4 linked regions of the Homo sapiens genome follow. The protein of the gene in region 3 interacts with the protein of the main gene of each other region in a biochemical or structural test. Each region holds a gene or a part of one and is shown on either strand. Other genes may lie near its edges.

Evidence for each region.
Region 1: the proteins of MECP2 (region 3) and SIN3A form a complex in vitro, tested with the Homo sapiens proteins (2 studies listed by BioGRID).
Region 2: the proteins of MECP2 (region 3) and H4C6 are reported together in a solved structure, tested with the Homo sapiens proteins (one study listed by BioGRID).
Region 4: the proteins of MECP2 (region 3) and LBR form a complex in vitro, tested with the Homo sapiens proteins (one study listed by BioGRID).

What each region holds. Positions count from the first base shown.
Region 1 is NC_000015.10:75,441,662-75,445,190, forward strand, and holds part of SIN3A (paired amphipathic helix protein Sin3a), read right to left. Parts: exon of another isoform or gene 1,673-3,529; intron 1-1,672. UniProt on the Homo sapiens protein: Acts as a transcriptional repressor. Corepressor for REST. Interacts with MXI1 to repress MYC responsive genes and antagonize MYC oncogenic activities. Also interacts with MXD1-MAX heterodimers to repress transcription by tethering SIN3A to DNA.
Region 2 is NC_000006.12:26,238,920-26,241,322, forward strand, and holds H4C6 (histone H4), read left to right. Parts: upstream 1-1,473; 5' UTR 1,474-1,506; coding exon 1,507-1,818; 3' UTR 1,819-1,874; downstream 1,875-2,403. UniProt on the Homo sapiens protein: Core component of nucleosome. Nucleosomes wrap and compact DNA into chromatin, limiting DNA accessibility to the cellular machineries which require DNA as a template.
Region 3 is NC_000023.11:154,031,700-154,037,300, forward strand, and holds part of MECP2 (methyl-CpG-binding protein 2), read right to left. Parts: intron 5,163-5,601; exon of another isoform or gene 2,225-5,162; intron 859-2,224; coding exon 508-858; intron 1-507. UniProt on the Homo sapiens protein: Chromosomal protein that binds to methylated DNA. It can bind specifically to a single methyl-CpG pair. It is not influenced by sequences flanking the methyl-CpGs.
Region 4 is NC_000001.11:225,414,510-225,418,038, forward strand, and holds part of LBR (delta(14)-sterol reductase LBR), read right to left. Parts: coding exon 3,475-3,529; intron 824-3,474; coding exon 769-823; intron 1-768. UniProt on the Homo sapiens protein: Catalyzes the reduction of the C14-unsaturated bond of lanosterol, as part of the metabolic pathway leading to cholesterol biosynthesis.

The DNA of each region.
Region 1 (3,529 bases), on a different chromosome or scaffold from region 3:
TCTAGTAAGGTTCTAGCTTATCACCTCTGGGTCTTTTTTTCCCTTTCTGCCCATCAAATGAAATACTTTGAAAACTCACTTCATAATTTTGTTGGAGAGAACAGTCATCTTCTTTGCTCCATAATCATAAGCATTCTCATTTTTAGACTAATAAATGTCAATCAGAATGAACAATCCAGGCTGAGCGTGTGGCTCTTGCCTCTAATCCCAGCACTCTCAGAGGCCGAGGCGGGTGGATCACGAGGTCAGGAGATTGAGACCATCCTGGCTAAAACGGTGAAACCCCATCTGTACCAAAACTACAAAAAATTAGCTGGGTGCAGTGGCACGCACCCGTAGTCCCAGCTACTCGGGAGGCTGAGGCAGGAGAATCGCTTGAACCCAGGAGGCAGAGGTTGCAGTGAGCAAAGACCATGCCACTGCACTCCAGCCTGGGTAACAAGAGTGAGACTCTGTCTCAAAAAAAAAAAAAAAAAAAAAAAAAAAAAAAAACTGATTTTTTTTTTCATTTTTACATAATTTTTCCTTCTAACCATCTTTATACATATACGTAACTTTGGCACCTGTCCACTTACAAACTGCATCAACTAAGTTTTGGTGTACAAATATCTTGAAAGATGAAAGAATACTATCATACATCTTTTTGGCAAAGTGCAGTGGTTTTGATTGTTTTTTTTTTTCATTTCTTAAAAATAGAAATGGGGTCTCACTATGTTGCCCAGGCTGGTCTCGAACGTCTGGGCTCAAGCGATCCTCCCACCTCAGCCTCCCAAGAAGGTGGGATTGCAGGCATATGCCACTGCACCCAGCCCAGTTCTGATTCTTATAAAAAGAAAATCACATTCTAGCTGGATGCCTATAGTGCCAGTTACTTGGGGGAACTGAAGCAGGAGAACAGCTTGAGCTCAGGAATTTAAATCCAGCCTGGGCAACATAGTGAGATAGATCCCATCTTTAAAAAAAAAAAAAAAAAAAAAAAAATTCACCGCTGGGCATGGTGGCTCACGACTGTAATCCCAGCACTTTGGGAGGCCAAGGCAGGTGGATCACCTGAGGTTGGGAGTTCAAGACCAGCCTGACCAACATGGAGAAACCCCATCTTTTACTAAAAATACAAAAAATTAGCCAGGCATGGTGGTACATGCCTGTAATCCCAGCTACTTGGGAGGCTAAGGCAGGAGAATCCCTTGAACCCAGGAGGCGGAGGTTGCGGTGAGCCGAGATTGTGCCATGGCACTCTAGCCTGGGCAATAAGAGCAAAACTCTGTCTCAAAAAAAAAAAAAAAAAAAAAATCACATTCTAAACTCATCTAGGGTACAGTCACATATGTATATGGGTGGAGACAGAATCTTGCTATGTTGCCCAGCCTGGTTTTGAAGTACTGGGCTCAAGTGATCCTCCCATCTCAGCCTCCCGAGATGCTAGGATTACAGGTGCACGCCACCATGCCTGGCTGAAGACTCTTATTTTACAACTTGGTTTATATAACTTTACCGTCATCCTAACAGTCTAGAGTACTACTGTCACACAGCATTCATCTACTAGTTCCTCTGAAATGTCTTCTGTAGTCAGTTTTCTTCTCTTTGCCATTATAGGAGGAAGATGAAAAACTATGGATTTTTAAATATGTCCAATGAAAGCTTAAAAGTTGAAAAATAGTATAAAAATTACCATGTACTCCTTCACCTAGATTCTCCAAATGTTAACATCTTACATAATGTTTAAGATGGTATCTCCCAACTTCTTTTATACTTTCTTGAAAGATGCTGTAGGCTGGGCATGCTGGCTCATGCCTGGAATCCCAGCACTTTGGGAGGCTAAGGTGGGTGGATTGTTTGAGCCCAGGAGTTCGAGACTAGCCTAGACAACATGGCGAAACGTTCTCTCTACAAAAAAAATACAAAAATTAGCCAGGTGTGGTGGCACATGCCTGTAGTCCCAGCTACTTGGAGGGCTGAGGTGAGATTGCTTGAGTCTGGGAGGCGAAGGTTGCAGTGAACTGAGATTGCGCCACTGCACTCCAGCCTGGGTGACAGAGTGAGACCCTGTATCCAAAAAGAAAAAAAAAGTTGCTGTAAGTTTTGGGAAAAGCAATAAGAAAACTGAAGGGCTGCGGTGCACACCTATAGTCCCAGCTACCGAGGATGCTTAGGAGGGATGATCACTTGAGCCCAGAAGTTTGAGGCTGCAGAGAGCTATGATCATACCACTGCCCTTCGGCCTGGGCAACAAAGCGAGGCCCCATCTCTAAAAACTGAAGTGTAAAACTAATGATTTATTTCACTACTGCATATCCTTTTAAGCAATTCTATAATTCTCCCTTTGTCATATTATTTTAGTCCTCTTTAGCATATTTGAGAATTGATGAGTAATGATGAAATAATTCCTAGGATGATGAAATACCAAAACATTTCAATATACAGGAAAAATAAGATCAGTAAAACTCCACAACATTGTTTCGATGTACAAGTGGTAATAGCTAAAATGAGTTTATTCCTTTGGAAAAAAAATAAATTTTCAGGCTGGGCATGGTGACTCATGCCTGTAATCGCAGCACTTCGAGAGATAAGAAGTTTGAGGCCAGCCTGGCCAATATGGTGAAACCCCATTTCTACTAAAAATACAAAAATTAGCTGGGTATGGTGGTACACACCTGTAATCCCAGCTACTCGGGAGGTTGAGGCAGGAGAACCAGTTGAACCCAGGAGGCGGAGGTTGCAGTGAGCCAAGATCGCGCTACTGCACTCCAGCCTGGGGATGGAACAAGACCGCATCTCAAAAATAAAATTAAAAATAAAAATAAATTTTCTCTTTGCTGTTTTGAAGACCTCCAATAAATAAAAGTCATGAAATATACATCTTTACAAGTAGTTAGTACTGCTTTAAAAAAAAAAAGCAAAACTCAAAAACTAAAATTGAGTCCAGACCAGGTGCAGTGGCTCAGGCCTGTAATCCCAGCACTTTGGGAGGCCGAGGTGGGCAGACTGCTTGAGCCCAGGAGTTTGAGACCAATCTGGGCAATACAGACTTCGGTGACACTGATGTTACCCAGACATTTCTTACTACTGTAGGTAGAAAATGAACAGAAATTTAGTTAAATTCAAAATGTATTAATAATTGTTATCAATGTTGATTTTCTGATTTGATCACTGTATTGTGGTTTTAAAAGATGCACTTGGGGAATCTAGGTGAAGATTATAGGGCTATTATTTGTATTATTTTTGCAACTCTCTTTGAAGTCTAAAATTATTTCCAAAGAAAAAGTTTTTTAAAAATTAAGTATTAGGCCAGGCATGGTGGCTAACACCTGTAATCTCAGCACTTTGGGTGTCTGAGGCAGGTGGATTGCTTGAGTCCAGGAAGACCAGCCTGAGCAACATGGTAAGACCCTATCTCTATTTAATATAAGAAATATAATCTTTCAAAATATCTATAAGGCCAGGTGCAGTGGCTCATGCCTGTAATCCCAGCACTTCGGGAGGCCAAGGCAGGTGGATTGCCTGAGGCCAGGAGTTCAAGACAAGGCTG
Region 2 (2,403 bases), on a different chromosome or scaffold from region 3:
ATAGGAGGCAATGAATGTGAAGCAGTAGACTGTAAGAGTTAATGTTGAATTTTTCTACTACACATACCCTATGATCTGTGTGTAGAACACTTCTTCCGGAATCTTTTATTAGGACAGTATTTCACAGAATTTATTAGTATTATTTTTGTTAATTTACAAACCTTTATTCACCATGATTTACCATGTATGCTTTAGTGGCATGAAAGCAGTGGTAGGTAGCAAGGTAGTGAGACTCCAGAATCGAGCCAACAATACAATGCCATTTATTAGAGGATAATGTCTTCAAGCCTGGGATTCCTTATCTTTACACCTCAGATATTGCATTATACATTGAAAAACTAAGAATGAAACTTCAATTAATATTGGTTTCCCTTACTAGAGGTCTTTCTTTATTAGGAATGCCAAAAACGATGTGAATGTATATGTCTCTGCCAAACGCTAAGTCTCATGATTGGCCAAATTTAAGAAGTATTGCTACATTTTAAGAATTAATAAAAATGGCCGGGCGTGGTGGCTCACGCCAGTAATCCCAGCACTTTGTGAGGCCAAGGTGGGTGGATCACCTGAAGTCAGGAGTTCGAGACCACCCTGGCCAACATGGCGAAACCCCGTCTTTACTAAGAAAATACAAAAATTACCCAGGTGTGGCGACGCGTGCCTGAAATCACAGCTACTCGTGAGGCTGAGGCATGAGAATCGCTTGAACCCAGAAGGCGGAGGTTGCAGTGAGCCGAGATAGCGCCACTGCACTCCAGCCTGGGCAACAGAGTGAGACCCCGTATCAAAAAAAAAAAATTAGTAAAAATACATTTTCAAAGAATCTTCACATTTAAAAATTAAAGCTAGGCGCCTGTAATCCCAGAACTTTGGGAGGCCGAGGCGGGTGGATCACCTGAGGTCAGGAGTTCGAGACCAGCCTAGTCAACATGGCGAAACCCCATCTCTACTAAAAATACAAAAATTAGCCGGGCGTGGTGACGCGCGCCTGTAGTTGCAGCTACTGCAGGGGCTGAGGCAGAAGAATCGCTCGAACCCGAGAGGCGGAGGTTGCAGTGAGCCGAGATCACGCCACTGCACTCCAGTCTGGGGCAGAGCAAAACTGTTTCAAAAGAAATAATAATTTTATTCTCTTGTCTATCCATTCGGTAGACAAGTGTAGCGTTACTGCCTCCTTTTTGCAAATAATAAGGATTTTAGGAGACAGACATTATCAGTTCGAGAGCCCACAGGCACTGGACTAGAAGACACAGAAACCTACACTCAAGACCCAAACAAGGAAACAGGAAGGAGTCAAATCAACTTGCATTTCCCCTACCCTCACCGCCCCCTTTCCTTCCCAAGGCAATAGTGTAGGGGACGCCCAGTAAGTTACGGAAAAGGCGGAGACAGAGGTTTCGTTCCCGCCCCTCCAATTCAGTCTCCAAAAAGGTCCGCATAATTGATATATAAGGGGCTTCAGTGTGTAGCAAAGTTGCAAAAGTTAAGAGTTGTTGTTTGTCTTCGATCATGTCTGGTAGAGGCAAAGGTGGTAAAGGTTTAGGAAAGGGAGGCGCCAAGCGCCATCGCAAAGTGCTGCGTGACAACATACAGGGCATCACGAAGCCCGCCATCCGTCGCTTGGCCCGACGCGGCGGCGTGAAACGCATTTCGGGCCTCATTTATGAGGAGACCCGCGGTGTTCTTAAGGTGTTCCTGGAGAATGTGATACGGGACGCCGTAACCTACACGGAGCACGCCAAGCGTAAGACAGTCACTGCAATGGATGTTGTCTACGCGCTCAAGCGCCAGGGACGCACTCTGTACGGCTTTGGTGGCTGAGCCTCACCCCGGCTTTTTATTTAACAGCTCACCCATAAAAGGCCCTTTTCAGGGCCACCTCCTTCGTCACACGAAGGGCTGTAACTGATGACGACTTGGGTTTCGTTTTGTAAATTTGGGATTCTAACTGAGTTAAACCGAGCCGTTTTTAGCGATCTTCCTAAGATGGCGGATGTGCTAAGGAGAAAGGGAAGGCGAAACATTAGAAACTTGTTCAGGTATTTCGATCGCAAACATTCACAGGAAAAGATGGTGGAAATGGTTTGGGAATACCAGCAGCCTTTTATGACGTATGTGATGTGTTTTATTCCCACGTTTCTGAAATTTACTCCTATGTTAGGTGGCTGGGACTTAACTACACTAGCATTACATGTTTAGTTTTTGAGATGGAGTTGCTCTTGTCCAGGCTGTAGTGCAATGACGCAATCTCGGCTCACCGCAACCACCCCCTCCCGGGTTTAAGCGGTTCTCCTGACTCAACCTCCCGAGTAACTGGGGTTACAGGCATGCGCCACCACGCTTGGCTAATTTTTTATTTTTAGTACAGAAGGGGCTTTTCTGTGTTGGTCTGGCTGGTCTCGAACT
Region 3 (5,601 bases):
CTGAGGCCCATTCTGCTGGTTGGTGCCTGGGCCTGAGTCACCATCTAGAACATTCCCAAGTTTGAACTCAGGTACGGTGCTCAGTCTCTCCAGGAATCAGTTTCAACAAGATAATCCTTTGCTCACCCTTCTCATGGAATTAAATGAGGCTGTCTGCAAATGTCATTTGAAAACTGCTAACCTTTTTGGGATCATTTAAAAGGCAGAACTGAAACATGCTTCTTCACCCCTCTGAACCCCTAGCTCTGCAAGTTCCTCTGCTTCCGCAGCTATTCCATCCCCAGATAAAGACTTGAGGTGTGGAGAGGATAGAGGGCCTGCTACCTTGAGAACTTCCCACTCAGGGCAGCGACCTCTGTACACGGTCATTTCAAGCACACCTGGTCTCAGTGTTCATTGTTTATGTTCCCCCCGACCCCACCCTGGGCACATACATTTTCCTGCTCCATGAGGGATCCTTGTCCCTGCCCTCCCTGCCCTGTAGAGATAGGAGTTGCTCTTACTTACTTGATCAAATACACATCATACTTCCCAGCAGAGCGGCCAGATTTCCTTTGCTTAAGCTTCCGTGTCCAGCCTTCAGGCAGGGTGGGGTCATCATACATGGGTCCCCGGTCACGGATGATGGAGCGCCGCTGTTTGGGGGAGGCAGAAGCTTCCGGCACAGCCGGGGCGGAGCCTGACCCTTCTGATGTCTCTGCTTTGCCTGCCTCTGCGGGCTCAGCAGAGTGGTGGGCTGATGGCTGCACGGGCTCATGCTTGCCCTCTTTCTCTTCTTTCTTATCTTTCTTCACCTTTTTAAACTTGAGGGGTTTGTCCTTGAGGCCCTGGAGGTCCTGGTCTTCTGACTTTTCTTCCCTGAAGTGTTAAACAAGTATGTAAGTATCACAGAGAACATGCCAGTCTGCAGAACAAGTGAGCAGAGGCAGGCTTGGACCCCCACCACATGCAAGGCCCCAGGCCATCATACACTCAGATCTTGATGTCCTTCCCCAGGACAACAGAGACTCGGGCCAAGCTGGGACCCAAATATTTCTTTAGGAATTTGGGCTGTGGGTGGTGCTGGCCGGTGTGCCTGACCTGCACTGTGGCCACCCACAAGTCTCCTAGCACTGCAGGAGAATCAGAGCCCTTTCCTCTGAGCGGAAACACTGCGGCTCCTGAGCATACCACCCCAGCATGAGTCGCACTTCAAGGGACTCTGGGCTCGATGGCTGACAAGAGGCCGTCGACTGCTGGAAAGGGAGCCAAATGGGGGAGGGGTCTCCTTTGTGAAGGCCGGGCCTTGGGTGTGTTTTTGGTTTTCTAGAATGAGGCTCAATGAGGCACACAGTACAGTGTCATGGAAAGCACACACAGGTTTGGAGCCAGCCAACCTGCACTGAAATCCTTTGCCGCTTTCCAAACATGAACCCAGCAAATGACCTCAGCATTCTGTGCTTCAGTTTCCTTATCTTGACAACAGGTAACCCCATCTAGGCATCCTTACTGTGAGCATCACAGGAGAAAAGGCACAATGGCACTATATAAATATCAGCTAACTCAGGCCACAGGAAACTACCGCCTAGGGTCCTGGGGGTGATAAGACAAGTGGTCCCAGGTGGCGTGAGCCTCTAACACATGTTCCCTGATGAGGAATGGCCTCGGCCACAGCAGATGCGGAGGGAAGAGCAAGGAAAAAGGTGTGGTCCAGGCAGAGCCATACATCCCCTTCCTGCCGGTGGAGAAGAGCACCCTACCTATTCTAGTGTGGGAGGCTTCCCCGTTCTTTTCTGGTGACCGAAGCAGCTCCTTCTCTACACATCACTTTGGCCCGGTGGGGTCTCGTCAGAAATGGCCACCGTGAGGCCCCACACCCCAGCATCACTATCTGGCCATGATGCTCTAGTACTCTGTCGAGTATGCCACCGTGAAACCTCCTAGGACTCCAGAGCCTCTGCAACAACAGGGGCAGCTTGGAAAGAAGCAGCAGCCACCTGCGAGTCCCTTCGTTAGCAGTTCATTCTGGAAAAGAGCATGACTACTCCCACCCTCCGTGTTCTCAGCCCCACAACTCCCCTGTCCCATGTGGTTCACATCAGTGCTAGTCACCGCCTTGCGGCTGGTCTACCCCAAGAGACTTCCCCTCTTGTCTACACTGCACAGACTGTGCAATGAGGGCACCATGGCACTCACTGGCAAGCATCCTTAGGAAACCAGAACTCAAATGATGTAGGGAAGTTACCAAAGGCTGCTTAGTGCTGGGACTCAGAAGCTGCAAGGACGTATCTCTCCAGAACCATCAGGTCAGGTGTAGGGAGGCAAGAGATGTTCCAATCTAGTGACAAGGTCTTAGAGTGAGGGAATGTCTTGTCCCCACCATGACTCACCCCTGAGTTCCTCCCTATCCTGTATCTTCCTCCAGAAGTTTAGGGCCCAGAGTGTGGCTGCCAGAGTCACCTAGAGCCACTGCATACACAAAGGCATCCTACAACCCACAGAGCAGTCTTTCTTGCTGTAAAGAGGGGTCCCTAATCTGTCCCAGCACAGAGCTCGCCTTGTTTTGTTTTTTGTTTTTTTTTTGAGATGGAGTCTCGCTCTGTTGCCGATGGCATAATATCGGCTCATCGCAACCTCCGCCTGCCGGGTTCAAGTTATTCTCCTGCCTCAGCCTCCGGAGTAGCTGGGATCACAGGCGTGTGCTACCACGCCAGGCTAATTTTTGTATGTTTAGTGGAGACGGGGTTTCACCATGTTGGGCAGGCTGGTCTCGAACTCCTGACCTCAGGTGATCGACCCGCCTCAGCCTCCCAAAGTGCTGGGATTACAGGCGTGAGCCACCGTGCCCAGCCAGAGCTTCCTTTTCATGTCTCTGAGTCTTACAGCTCTCAATGGGAAATGACGAAGAACCCTGGAAAGCTAGGTGTGGCCTGTTGCCCACCAGAGATCAGCCTTTGAGAATGGACCCCTAGGCAGCTCCCCAGCTCCCCATAAAGGAGGGAGGGAAGGGGAGCCACCAGCAGAGTGGGCCAAGAAAGCAGACAGATGGGAATCGCTACTTCTACACAATCCATCATGGCACTGCCTAACGCCAGGGCTGCTCCCTAGAACCCGGACGGTCCTAATGTCAGAGAAAAACAGTGAACTAATGGGAAAGATCTGGCTTCTTCGAAACTCTCATTTGCATTTCCCAAATACCTTAATCACCATGAGGTCAAACTATAAACCTAAACGTGACGTAAGGAATGCCTTCTAGAAATCTATGCTAAAGAGACACCTCCAGAAATCTCAAAGAACATATGCATGATGTTATTTGCTACAACATTATTTTTACCAGCCAAAGGCTTCCAATACCCCCGATCCCTATCACCAGGGCACTTGCTGAATAAACTTATGGTGCGCCCACACACTGGAGTACTGTGCAGATCCAAAGGGACTAAACAAGAGCTCTAAGAACTGCGATGGAGTCATTTCCAGGATCCACTGTGAAGCAAAGGGAGCAAAGCGCAAACATATCTACTGCATTCTACCAAAGAAAGAAGGGGGGGTATTAAGGAAGGACACACCAGGAACTAATGAAATTGATTCCCTGCATGGGGTAGGGGGAAAAAGGTAAGGGTACAGGCACAGGAGTGAGGCCTAGCTGAACATGCCTCAGTGTAATTCTGACTTCTGAATCATGTAAATGTTTATATTACCCAAAATAAAATTCAAACTAAAAGTAACAAAACCTTATTACACTTAATGCAAATAAAAACAAATGAGTTCGGGCCAGGCATGGTGGCTTCAGCCTACGATCCCAGCACTTTGGGAGGCCGAGGCGGGTCGATCACCTGAGGTCAGGAGTATGAGGCTGCAGTGAGCCATGACTACATCACTGCACTCCAGCCTGAGTGACAGAGCAAGACCCTGTCTCTCTCTCTCTCTTTTTTTTTTTTTGAGACAGAGTCTTGCTAGAGTGCCATGGCGTGATCTTGGCTCACTGCAACCTCCGACTCCTGAGTTCAAGCCTTCTCCTGCCTCAGCTTCCCGAGTAGCTGGGATTACAGGTACCTGCCATCACGCCCGGCTAATTTTTGTATTTTTAGCAGAGACGGGGTTTCACCATGCTGGCCAGGTTGGTCTTGAATTCCTGACCTCAGGCGATCCACCCACCTTGGCTTCCCAAAGTGCCGGGATTACAGGCATGAGACACCACGCCTGGCCAAGACCCTGTCTCTTAAAAAAAAAAAAAAAGAAAAGAAAAAAGAAAAGAAACAAATTTAATTCTATATCAAATTGACAATATACCACAGAGAAAAGATTTATTTCAAATGACTTTTGACTACAGTGCTCTGCAAACCTGTAGTGGGACATATTCTAAGGCCAACAATAACACTCCAGGGGCAGTAAACACACTAGATTGGCTCCCAGGAGAGATATGTGATTCTGCTTCTGGGGCATCTTGTGCCAGAAAGCCCGGGGAGTGCAAGAGAAAAACAGGGAGGGCCCATGAGAGGCCTCTAGCAGTGGTCCAGGTGTGGCCCAGGGTGGGGGCAGTTGAGGATTTGGGGCTGGTCTAGGTGGTGAAGCAACAGAGCTCGCAGGTGGATTAGTGTGGGGGTGAGGGGCAAGGGTGAGTCAGGGACCATGTCCAAAGCCTGGGAAGATGGTGGTGCCACTGATTGAGAAGGAAAAGACTGAGGGGCCGGCTGGGTGCAGTGGCTCTCACCTGTAATCCCAGCACTGTGGGAGGCTGAGGCAGGTGGATCACCTGAGGTCTGGAGTTCGAGCCCAACCTGGCCAACATGGTGAAACTCCGTCTCTACTAAAAATACAAAAATGAGCCGGGCGTGGTGGCAGGTGCCTGTAAGTCCCAGCTACATGGAAGGCTGAGGGAGAAGAATCGCCTGAACCCAGGAGGCAGAGGTCGCAGTGAGCTGAGATCGCAAGACTCCGTCTCAAAAAAACAAAAACAAAAACAAAACCACTGGAGCGGCAGGGGAGCAACACCCACAGAGACAGTTATACCATCAAGGAGAGAAAACAGTTCTTCAGCTACTCGCTAGAAAGGGGGGAAACCCCGCTGTGATCAGATTCTGAGTTGGGCCTGAATGAAAATGAACTGTCTGCTTGGGGTTTTAAAGGCTTTTTATTGTGGTAAAATATACAAAACAGGTCAGGTGTGGTGGCTTACACTTGTAATCCCAGCACTTTGGGAGGTGAGGCAGGTGGATCGCTTGAGCTCAGGAGTTTGAGACCAGCCTGGGCAACATAGCAAAACCCTGTCTCTACAAAAAAAAAAAAAAAAAAAAAAAATTAGCTGGGCATGGTGGTGTGTGCCTGTAATCCTAGCTACTCGGGAGGCTGAGGCAGGAGGATCACTTGAGCCTAGGAAGTTGAGGCTGCAGTGAGCCGTTGATCATGCCACTGCACTCCTGCCTGGGCGAACAAACCAGACACATATATGTCTCAAAAAAAAATACATATATATATATATATATATATATATATATATATATATATATACACACACACACAAAACAAAGTTTACCTTTTTAACTATTTCTAAGTGTACAATGAATGAACTTTTTTTTTTTTTTTTTTGAGACGGAGTCTTGCTCTGTCACCCATGCTGGGGTG
Region 4 (3,529 bases), on a different chromosome or scaffold from region 3:
GCACTCAGCACATGCTCTTACAGTGCGAGATGCCGGACCCACAGGGAGCAAGGTCTATCCATTTATTGAGCTGCCCAGCAAGCTCACAACTCATCCATCCAGCACTCACATATGAATGAGCACCCACTACATGCCCATCTTCCTAGCACCAAGAGTGTCACAATGAACATAGCCAAGTCCTAGCCCATGAAGCCACATTCTAGTGGAGAGACCCTAATGAAGAGACAAATACACTGATGTGTGGAGGCACAAATGTCAGACAGAAAAACAAAACAGAGCAGGGGAGAGAAAGGGACCTGAAGGCTTCTCTCAGCAGAAGACAGATGGAGGTGAAGATGCAGGTGTCAGACGTTTGGGGGTAAGTTCTCCAGGCAAAGGCCCAGGAAGTGTGTGTGACGAATATTCAAGGGACAACCCAGAGGACATGAGCAAGGACAAGAGCAGCTCACGCAGCAGGAGTGGCCTGGATGCCCACATCCGTGTAACACCTCAGGTGATAAAATCCTAGACAAGTGCAATGATTTCTAACAGTGATGAGCACTATTAAGAAAATAAAACTGGAGAGTGGACAAGAGTGACTAAGAGGCTATGTTACTTTAATGGCATAATTTATACAAGTTGGCTACAGGTATAAACAGTTGCTCTTCCAACTACTAAGAAATAATTTATCACTTACTACTCTGGTCTAATCAGCTTTAACAAAGAGTTTAACACTTAGAAGTTTAAGCTATCAAATCATCAATTTGAGTCTTAAAAAAAGAAAATCACCATTTAATCTATACTTGAGTCTTCTTCCATCAATAAGAGGCGTTCCTTCTACAACCTTAAAAGAAAAAAAATTTACAAATTTACTAAGCACATCACCATCATATATACATATATACACACACACATATATATATTCTAGTATCACTTAATTTTCAACACGCCCAAGAAGGAAGATATCTTGTAACATGGAAATTTAGTAATATGTTTCAAAAACCCTAGTGGCAAGCCCTTTAATGACGCAATTCCACCTTCAGGAATTTATCTTAAATACAAATTCAGTAATGACTTCCTAGTGTAGGACCAAGCAACTGCAACAGCCACGCTCCCTGCCACACTCCTGTGTACCACCACCTCAAGACTAAATGTGCTTAAATACCTTTATATCTAGTGGATCCCTAGCTCAAACATCTACCAATGGCTACCATACTCTTACAAAGTAACAGTATGATTCCATTGTCTTCCATTTGTGGGGTCCTTTTCAATTGGGCTCTACCCTGTTTATCCACTCTACTATGACCCAAGTGCTATTTGATGACGCATACTCATATGCTTACTTGCTCTGCTATATATTATATATATATTGCCCATCCAGTTATTTAACCATTTCATGTGATTCTTTTATCTGCAATAAGAGACTGTGAGAAACCAGGTGTGGTGACTCATGCCTGTAATCCCAGCACTTTGAGAGGTCAAGGTGGGAGGATCACTTGAGTCCAGGAGTTGGAGACCAGCCTGGGCAACATGGTGAAATCCCCTCTCTACAAAAATACAAAATACAAAAACTAGCCAAGCCTGGTGGCACGCGCCTGTGGTCCCAGCTACTCGGGAGGCTGAAGTGGGAAGATGACTTCAGCCCAGGAGGAGGTTGCAGATTGCACCACTGCACTCCAGCCTGGGCAACAGAGCAAGACCCTGTCTCAAGAAAAAAAAAAAAAAAGAGAGAGAGAGAGAGAGACTGTGAGCACGCATCATGCATCAGAACCATCTCCTCTCTTCATTCGGCATCACTCACAGCATTCAGCACAGAGATACCCACAGGCATGGTACCCAATAGAACTGGCTCAGTAAAAAGTCCACTTGCTCAATGCAGCCACGTTTTACCCCACAAAATAACTATTCAGAAATGTAGCAATTCATTTCAAACTGTAAAATATAAATATAGTATCATTTGCTCTGGGCTAAACTACTTTATCTTATCATTAGCTACAGATTTCATTAGCTAGCATTCCTCCTCTCCCAAGAGAAACGTAAAAGCTGTTTGAGATCACAGGATTAGTAAAATGCCACATGCTAATTTCAGATGATCCTTATCTATTAAAGGAGTCTAGTAAATGCTGTGTTAGGCTTTAATCTGTGAATATATAGATCCAAATATACAGTCAGCCCTCCGTATCGACGGGATCCACATCCATGGATTCAACCAACCAGATCCAAAATATTTCGGAAAAAATTGCATCTGAGCTGAATATGTACAGACTTCTTTTTCTTGTCCTTATTCCCTAATACAGTATGATAACTATTTACATGGCACTTACGTTGTATTAGGTATTATAAGCAACCTAAAGGCAACAAAGTATACAAGGAAGATGCACACAGGTTATATGCAAATACTATACTATTTCTTATCAGGGCCTTCAGCATCCTCAGATTTTGGTATGTACAGGAGGTCCTGGAACCACTCCCCAAGGATATCAAGGGATGACTGCATAATATTAATATATATTTTAATATATATGCTTTTAGTCACTTTAGTCTATGAGTATATACATATATGACTTTAAACACCAAAACTGCTTTCCTTGATACTCTGAAATCACCTTACCCTAAATGAATCTGAATTTAACTGTAGAGGCTTACTGTAGAAATGACTGAAGGTCTTTATCACAAAAATCCTTGCTAGAGCCACTAAAGTTATGGTCTCACTCCACAGTATTAAGCCTGCAGCTCTACCCTCCTATCACTGGCATTCACCAGTAAAACCGATCCTTTGGTTTACAGACAGTTGGCAAACTTGCAAAGCCCTAAGAATAAGATCTTTAAATAAATTATTTATTACTTAGGGAATCTCATGTTTCTTTAAATATATCCAAGTAAAGGATTCTACTGAAAGAAGAAAAAACTACACTTAGCAATGGAGAGACAAATTTTAAAGATATTGCAGGAATCTGAAAACAACGTAAAATGTTCTTGACAACAAGCTTCTGAAAGAGATGAAAATTAGAAACTTTTCATACTTTTTTAAAGTAAAAGATGTAGACTAAAGTCCATCGAGCCCAGTAGCCTATCAATTAATCATTTAAAATGCTGCATCTGAAATGACACATACTAAGAGTGAATTTTTTTTCCATAGCAACCTCCACTGAGAGTCGGCTACTTTGCAAAATAGCCTATTCTTTTCTATTTGGTTTGAAAAGTTACACAAGAAATCTCAATCAGATTTTTTTTTAAGTTCCTCCTAATAAGCAAGTGTTATACAGACAGCACAAGAGAAATGGCTTCATGAACTAAGTTTTGGGAATTATGACCAACAACAGCCTTTAACCTTTAAACTACTCTAAGGCTGGGCAGCATGGCACAGGCCTGTGGTCCCAGCGACTCAGGAGGCTGCGGCAAGAGGATCACTTGATCCCAGAAATTGGAGACCCGCCTGGACAATATAGTGAGACCTCATCTTATTAAAACAAAACAGAATTACCATAAACGTACCTTTCCAATTGGCAGTAGGTAGAACAGGACTTGAATCAAAAACCACAGGAGGTAG